2 linked regions of the Homo sapiens genome follow. The protein of the gene in region 1 interacts with the protein of each later gene in a pairwise test. Each region holds a gene or a part of one and is shown on either strand. Other genes may lie near its edges. The genes, in order: STARD13 and EPB41L1.

Region 1 (3,815 bases):
GCTCCCTGTTCCTAGAGCTATTCAAGCAGAGGTGGCTACCCCTTGAAAAAAGGTTGTGGATGGGAGTCAGGAGCTATGAGAACATCTCTGTAACAACCTCTAACTTCCCTTTCTACCCCAGGGATCTATCATAATAGATTGCATTATTAGAATTCCCATGATTTACTCCACAAATTCTATTCCCTTACTAAGTCATGTCCTCCATGATTTCACCCTGTCCTCCTACACCAGGAAGAGAAATGGTGATATGTGCTTGACAAGAACTTGGGAATAACCAAGCCCCACACAAATGCTCAGCGACTTCCATGCTGTGACTACTCTTTTCATGAACGAAGATGTGATAAATCGTGACGACTGAAAGTTGTAGAGATTTGTTGGGATAAATGGGAGAATCTCCAGCAACTCTCAGCGGAAGCTCCCGAGGAGCTAGCAATGGGTGTGACATGAGAGACAAATGCAGCAATCCTGAAAGGTGACCAGCCTCATACATGCTAGCCTAGACTGTAAGATGCTCTGAAGACAGGAGGCATCTCAGCCCCGTGCCTCCTCACCACACTCATCACTTTCCACCTCCTTGTATCCTACACATAAGGAATTCCTGTTGTTGGGAACCAGATCTGGTTCATTGTTAGCCCGTGGAGGGCTGCACCTCTTCTCCTTCAGGGCCACATGGTCCACTCCACTTCTTCAAGTCTTGGATCAAAATCAGTGCAGCAAGACCCCGCCCTGACCATTCTATTTAAAATTCCATCCCTTACTATCTCCCTATCTTATTCCTCCCAGGATAAGTAAGCCCATCTCCCTTTCTTATTTTTTATGGACTTTCCCCAGTGAAATACAAACCCCAAGAGAGCAGGAGAGGGGTTTGCTGCATTCCCTTGGCATACCCAGAGCCTATTGCAGTGCCTGGCACGTGGTCGTGATGGAACGAAGCACTGATAAATAGCAGGCTGGTGGGGTTGCCGGATGGATGGAAGGAGGGAGGTTCTACACACAGACTCAGGCCCTCAGCCTCCTCTGGAGGGAGGGAGGAGGCACGCTATGGCATGGCCCCATTCCTATGGCAGCCATCCTGCAACAGCTATTCAACTTTCCACTTGTGGAGTGAAAGCATGAAGTTTAATTCCACCAGATGACTAATGTCCTAATAACTTTGGTAATATGCCACCCTTATAAACTGCCTGCATTCTCCAGCAGGATCCCAAGGAAGCAGAGATAAATACATATATTTAGGGAAAATTGACCTTTAAAAGTCAAGGTTCCATGGGCCAATTCCCAAGTCATAAAGAGCTCATGTGAAAAGTAACCTTTAGTTTGCCATCAAAACTGGTTTCATAAAGAAAGCGTTTTAAATATACATTTGGGAGTTTCACAATAGGTTCCTTTTACACTGCTGATCTGTGACATGAGACAAGGCTTGCCAAGATTTTCAATAAAAAAGGATATATTGATCTAATTACCTTCTATTCAGGTTCTTTAGCACCCTCAATTTCTGTTCTGGCTGATGCAACACTGCATCTCTACTGTGCAAACTTTCTATCATTGGTTGAGCATCCCCTTCCAAACCCCAAGAACAGGGGTCTGGAACTCAACCCTTACATCAATCAGAAGAAATATTTCCTTGGCAGACACAGAATCAACAAGATTTTCTGGACCTCCAGGGCAGTGCCAAGGTTTCTGAGCATAGTAATAGCTATGAGCATCTGAAGTTATACAGATGAGTTCTGAAGTCAAACCTACTCCAGTCTTGAGAGTTACACACACTTTCCCAGGGGAGAAAAACAAAATCAGAAGAAAAGCCAGTCAGATCCATTTGCATAATTTGGCAGAAAGTGCAACCGGACAAACAGCAGCTTTTCTGGGCCGTCTGCTCTGAGGAAATGAATAATATTTATGGCCTAATAAACTGTGTGCTCCACAAGGAGAGGGGCAATCAGAGAGCCCAGGCAGAGCTGTAGGCTGGGTGAAAAGACACAGGAAGTCGGGCATCGACACAGAAAACTCAGATGTCACTGAGGGAAACAAGAGCCGGCTTAGTGTTCCCCGTGGAGGCTGGACTTTGGTGGGAGACACCAGGAGAAGTGCTCACATCTACAGTTCGCGTCCTGCCTTTGGAACAGAACATCATAAACCCTAGAGTCAGGCTCACCTGAGAACCACAAAGTCTCTGGAAGGATGGGGAGCCATGCTGTTCAGCACATACTGGTAGATCTCTGTTTGCCTGTCTAGAGTTTCCACAACCTTCCACTGCACAAAGTCCTCGTCCCACAGGTGGCGCTCTCTCAGCACGCGGTTCAGGACCACTGAGGGGGGTGCTTCCACCTCCACAGAAGCCTTCCACAGCTTCAGCGGGTTCCCGTCGCCCACCTTGGGAAAGACAACGTCAGAAGCTGAAGAGGTTGTCTGGGATATGGGTCCAACATTTTTTGTTTGGGCTTTTAGTTTTGCTATCATACCTTGCTGGGTGTTCAAAAACCATCACTGATTATGTAAATTGAGAGTGATACTACATACCTCAGCTGTAACATTTTAGTCCTTAAGCTTAAAAGAATAATAATGATGATAAAAATAATAATCACCAACACACCTAGTGGTTACTGTGTGCCAGGAACTATTCTAAGCCATTTGGTTTGTAAATTAGCCTTCCTCCGACAGTGGTACTCTTACAATGTCCATTTTGCAAATGGGAAAACTGAGGCACAGAGAGGTGTGTGACTTGCCCAACATCACACAGCTACGGGGGAGAGACAGGACCGGGATCCAGCTGTCCGGCTCCATAGTTTACTCTCTGATTATAGGCAACAGATCTCTGGACTGAGTTCTTTGAATGGTTCATGTGCCTTAACTGTCCGCGTGTGTGCCAAGCCCTGTGGACACAGCAGCTGTTTTCAATGCAAAAACAAATGTCTGATTGTTAGCTGTGGCTTTCTGGGGGTGATCTTTTTCCATCCTCTGAGATTACCTTTTTGAAAGCAAGATCTGTATTGTCCGTGCTGGAGCACGTGACCCATCCTTTGAACTTCTCCTTGGCTTCTTTCTGGAGGCCCTGGATGAGATGGTTCAGGTAAGTGTGGAAAGTTGCCCCACTCTCCTCCAGCTGTGTCCCCAATTCTTCCAGGGTTGGCACGTGGATCTCAGCCTCCACATACGAGTTACGAGACTGGGCCACCAACTCGTGTGGAACCTAGACCAACGGATGCATGAAAGGGCAACACACTGAGCCAAAGAAACGCCGAGACTCAAAGAAAGCAAAGCCATTTCACCCACAACCCGGCTCTGAGCCACGGGCCGAGGGCCACACGGCCAGAGATGTTTTTCTAAGATCATTGCCAAGGCCGGGAGGGGCCTTCCTAAAGTCAGGAAATACAAACATGTTTCTGAGGCTGTATTTATTATTCAAAACATTGCAATGACTTCCCCTTTATTATTTTCACTTCCCTTTTATTTTACCTTTACTGTCTTTTTATTCAGTTTGGCAAAATATGGGCTCAGACAACTTTACCCACTATGAATAAGACTTAAAACAGACAGACTTGTGAAGGGAAACATCAAACATGACTTGGGAATAGCTTTACTTTTTTAGCACACTTTTCCCATTGACAAATGCCAATTCTATCACAAAAGTATGCCACAAGTCTGGTTCACTTACTTCTTTTACATATCTGTGGCTGTATTCATAAGCTGTCATTGGTTCTTAGCAACAAAGATTCCTCAGTATCATACACACACTCACACAGATGTTTAACCTAATCAAGCTCCAAGGTAAAATCAAATAGAACATAATTGGCTGACTGGCCTTGAACCTGATAATGGCA
Region 2 (3,815 bases), on another chromosome or scaffold:
TTCCTCTCCATCACACCCGCCTCCAGCATCCCCCATCTTTTGCCTGTGCCTATGAGGGCCTTCTCCCTCGCCTCTGGTGCTCTCCAGGTCATTTTCCTCATAGCTGCTGGAGAGATCTTAAAAAGTCCCTTAAATCAGATCATGGCAAGCCCACTCCCCCTTCCCATCCACACCCTTGCTTACACCTTTCAGGAACTCTCTTTAGCTCTTGAGCTAAACTTCAAACTCCTTCCATGGCCACCTACCTCTCCCACCTATCCCTTGCCACACTGCCCCATGCCCAAGGTGCTTTAGCCTCTTCGGCCTTGAGATCTTTGAATAAGTCGAGCTCTTTCCTGCCTGAGTGCTTCGCATTTGATGTTTCCTTTACCTGAAAGTATCTCCCCCTCTCGCTTCTCACATAGCTGGTTCCTTCCCATTCTTCAAATGTCAGCTCAAGATCACCTAGATCTAGGTCTAGAGGGGATCCCCTGCTCTTCCTTAGATGACAGGAGCCCCTATGCCTTCCCAGTTCTGCTGCACCACACATCTCCCTTCATTCCCCTTGTAGCCCTGATCAGTGTCTGCAATTATCTTGTTTGCTTATTTGTTATTGGAGGTCCCCTTCCCCTACTAGAATCTTCTGCCTTGGTCTCCATGTATCTCTAGTGTTTAGCACTGGACCCGTCACAGAGTAAGGGCTCAATCACCCTTATTGATTCAGTGAATGAACAGGCCAAAGTCGCAGATGCCTGAGAAGAGTTCAGAAAGAATGACTCACGTCTGTAATCCCAGCATTTTGGGAGGCTGAGGTGGGAGGACTGCTTGAGCCCAGGAGTTGGAGACCAGCCTAGGCAACATAGTGAGACTCATTCTCTACAAAAAATTAGCTGGTGTGGTGTCGTCTGACTGTAGTCCTGGCTACTTGGGAGGCTGAGGCAGGAGGATCTCTTGAGCCCAGGAATTCAAGGTTACAGTGAGCTATGATTGCGCCACTGTACTCCACCCTGGGCAAATGATCGAGACCCTGTGTCTCAAAAAAACATTAAACAAATAAAATAAAAAACACAAAGAATGGGCTAGTGGCGAGAGTGAGCTCAGGCCCTGCCTCTAACCTGCCCTTTTGGTTTTCCAGTATGAGCAATTTGAGAGCACAATTGGCTTTAAGCTCCCAAACCACCGGTCAGCCAAGAGACTGTGGAAGGTCTGCATCGAGCATCATACATTCTTCCGGTGAGCCTGACCTTGGATGGGGTAATGGGGATGGGGCAGAGGCCATGTGTATGGAGGGGAGCAGGGGGAGGAGTTAGTGAGAACTCTAGGAAAGTCCTCCACCCTTTCCCCAAGTCCCTCCCTTCCTGGACCACTTTGAATTGTTGTAGTTGGTGGAGTAGTGGGATGAAAGGCCAGCTGTGGTCTAACCTTGGGCCTGGCAGTGCAGGTCTGATTCCTCCTCCTCCCCTGCATCCCTCTGCTGCAGGCTGGTGTCCCCTGAGCCCCCACCCAAGGGCTTCCTGGTGATGGGCTCCAAGTTCCGGTACAGTGGGAGGACCCAGGCACAGACTCGCCAGGCCAGCGCCCTCATTGACCGGCCTGCACCCTTCTTTGAGCGTTCTTCCAGCAAACGGTACACCATGTCCCGCAGCCTTGATGGAGGTATGGCCCAAATTGGAGGGCTGGGCGGGGAATGGTCTTCAGAGGGAACTGGGGGAGTGGGCATGCTGGGTTCTGCAGAATGAGCAGGAAAATGGTAGATGCATCCCAAGTTCATCTGCACCAGGCTGGCCCCTCAAGACCAGTGCTGTCCCTGGGCAGCTCTTGGTGGCTTAGTCCCAACCTAGAGCTCACTCCCACTTGAGATGTGATACTACCACTCTCTGGATTCCCCACAACTTCCCTGAGTCGTGGTCTTTTGGGGTCCCAGGTTTAGCCATATGGTTTGGGCCACCTACCCAAGAAGCTTAGCAATCCACCAGTCTAACCTGTGGTCTAACCTTGGGCCTGGCAGTGCAGGTCTGATTCACCCTCCTCCCCTGCATCCCTCTGCTGCAGGCTGGTGTCCCTTACACTGGTCATCATCATACTAGGAGAATAGTGTCTTATGACTGCAGTGTGGAGCTGATGATGCCTTATCTGCTGGGAGGCCAGGGCATCGTTCTTGGTCATTCTTTTGGTTCTACTAGGTTCTGGGCTGATTGACAATCTAACCACATGGCACTCTCCACTGTCCCCATTTCTATTGGATTGATGGGTGCCCTTAACATCAATGAAAACTGGCCCTATATAGTCCTGTAGCAAGCAGATAGGGCTTAAAATGTGGTGCACAAACCACGTTTCATCAGAGTCGCCTGTGAGATTGTTAAGCAAGCACGAAAATTCCCAGGTTTTGCCCCAGACCTACTAAATCAGCACCCTTCAGGGCCCAAGTCTCTCCCCAGGATGTACACACTAGAGTTTGTAGGTGATGTTCGGAAGTCACATGGGTCACTGGGGAGATTCAGAATTATGCAGATCTGAGTTCAAATCTCGGCTTGACAGTCACCGTGGGCTGTTCTCTGGACACTGGAAGTGGTTCATAAATATCTGAATGAATGGATGGGTGACCTTAAGCAACTTATTTAACTCCCTGAGCCTATTTCCTCTTCTACAAAATACATAGTACCTACTTTGCTGTGTTCTAGGGAAAACTAAATGAGATCATGCCTAGAAAATATTCTGTGGCACATAGTAGCACCTTAAGAAATTGTACCCATCATTATTGTTTTTAGGTTTGTAGAGAGTGGCTTAAAGGTGGGAAGTGGGGGCTGGGCATGGTGACTCATGCCTGTAATCCCAGCACTTTGGGAGGCCAAGGCGGGCAGATCACCTGAGGTCAGGAGTTCGAGACCAGCCTGACCAATATGATGAAACCCCATCTCTACTAAAAATACAAAAATTAGCCGGGCGTGGTGGCATGCACCTGTAATCTCAGCTACTCGGGAGGCTGAAACAGGAGAATTGCTTGGACCTGGGAGGCAGAGGTTGCAGTGAGCTCACACCATTGCATTCCAGCCTGGGCAACAAAGCGAGACTCCATCTCAAAAAAAATAAAAAAAATAAAAAATAAAAAGGCCAGGCACAGTGGCTCACACCTATAATCCCAACACTTCGGGAAGCCAAGGCAGGTGGATCACGAGGTCCAGAGATCAAGACCATCCTGGCCAACATGGTGAAACCTCGTCTCTACTAAAAATACAAAGATTAGCCAGGCATGGTGGCAGGCGCCTGTAGTCCCAGCTACTCGGGAGCTCAGGCAGGAGAATCACTTGAACCCGGGAGATGAAGGTTGCAGTGAGCCAAGATTGCACCGCCACTGTACTCTAGCCTGGTGACAGAGCAAGACTCCGTCTCAAAAAAAAAAAAAAAAAAAAAAAGGTGGAAAGTGGGGACTTGGGTAGGGAAACCGTGGATACTCCCAGAACACCTTGGGGCAGGCCTCCAGGCAAGTTAGTTCTACTTATATTTTCTGAGTGTTATATGTGTGCCAGGCCTTGTGTTGGGTCCTGGGTATAGTATTTAGAGTGAATAGGTTTGGTCCTTTCCTTTGAGGAGCTCATAGAATAGCAGGTTTGTAAGCATTTGTTGTGGTTCAAGCAATGGGAAAAGCATGTGTAGAATGTAGAGTAGCCATGAGGAGGGAGGAATTAAGTCTAGAAGGGACAGAAATGGCTCTGCAGAAAGGGTGCCAACTGGGCAGGGTTTGGAAGGATACCTAGGAGTTTGCCAGGTGATTAAGAAAGTCTGATACTTTGTCTGGTATATGAAAATGAGACCTGTCTCAGGACTCCTGTGCATGT

Evidence for each region.
Region 2: the proteins of STARD13 (region 1) and EPB41L1 interact in a two-hybrid assay, tested with the Homo sapiens proteins (one study listed by BioGRID and IntAct).

What each region holds. Positions count from the first base shown.
Region 1 is NC_000013.11:33,107,724-33,111,538, forward strand, and holds part of STARD13 (stAR-related lipid transfer protein 13), read right to left. Parts: intron 3,185-3,815; coding exon 2,963-3,184; intron 2,368-2,962; coding exon 2,150-2,367; intron 1-2,149. UniProt on the Homo sapiens protein: GTPase-activating protein for RhoA, and perhaps for Cdc42. May be involved in regulation of cytoskeletal reorganization, cell proliferation and cell motility. Acts a tumor suppressor in hepatocellular carcinoma cells.
Region 2 is NC_000020.11:36,189,163-36,192,977, forward strand, and holds part of EPB41L1 (band 4.1-like protein 1), read left to right. Parts: intron 1-1,114; coding exon 1,115-1,212; intron 1,213-1,459; coding exon 1,460-1,635; intron 1,636-3,815. UniProt on the Homo sapiens protein: May function to confer stability and plasticity to neuronal membrane via multiple interactions, including the spectrin-actin-based cytoskeleton, integral membrane channels and membrane-associated guanylate kinases.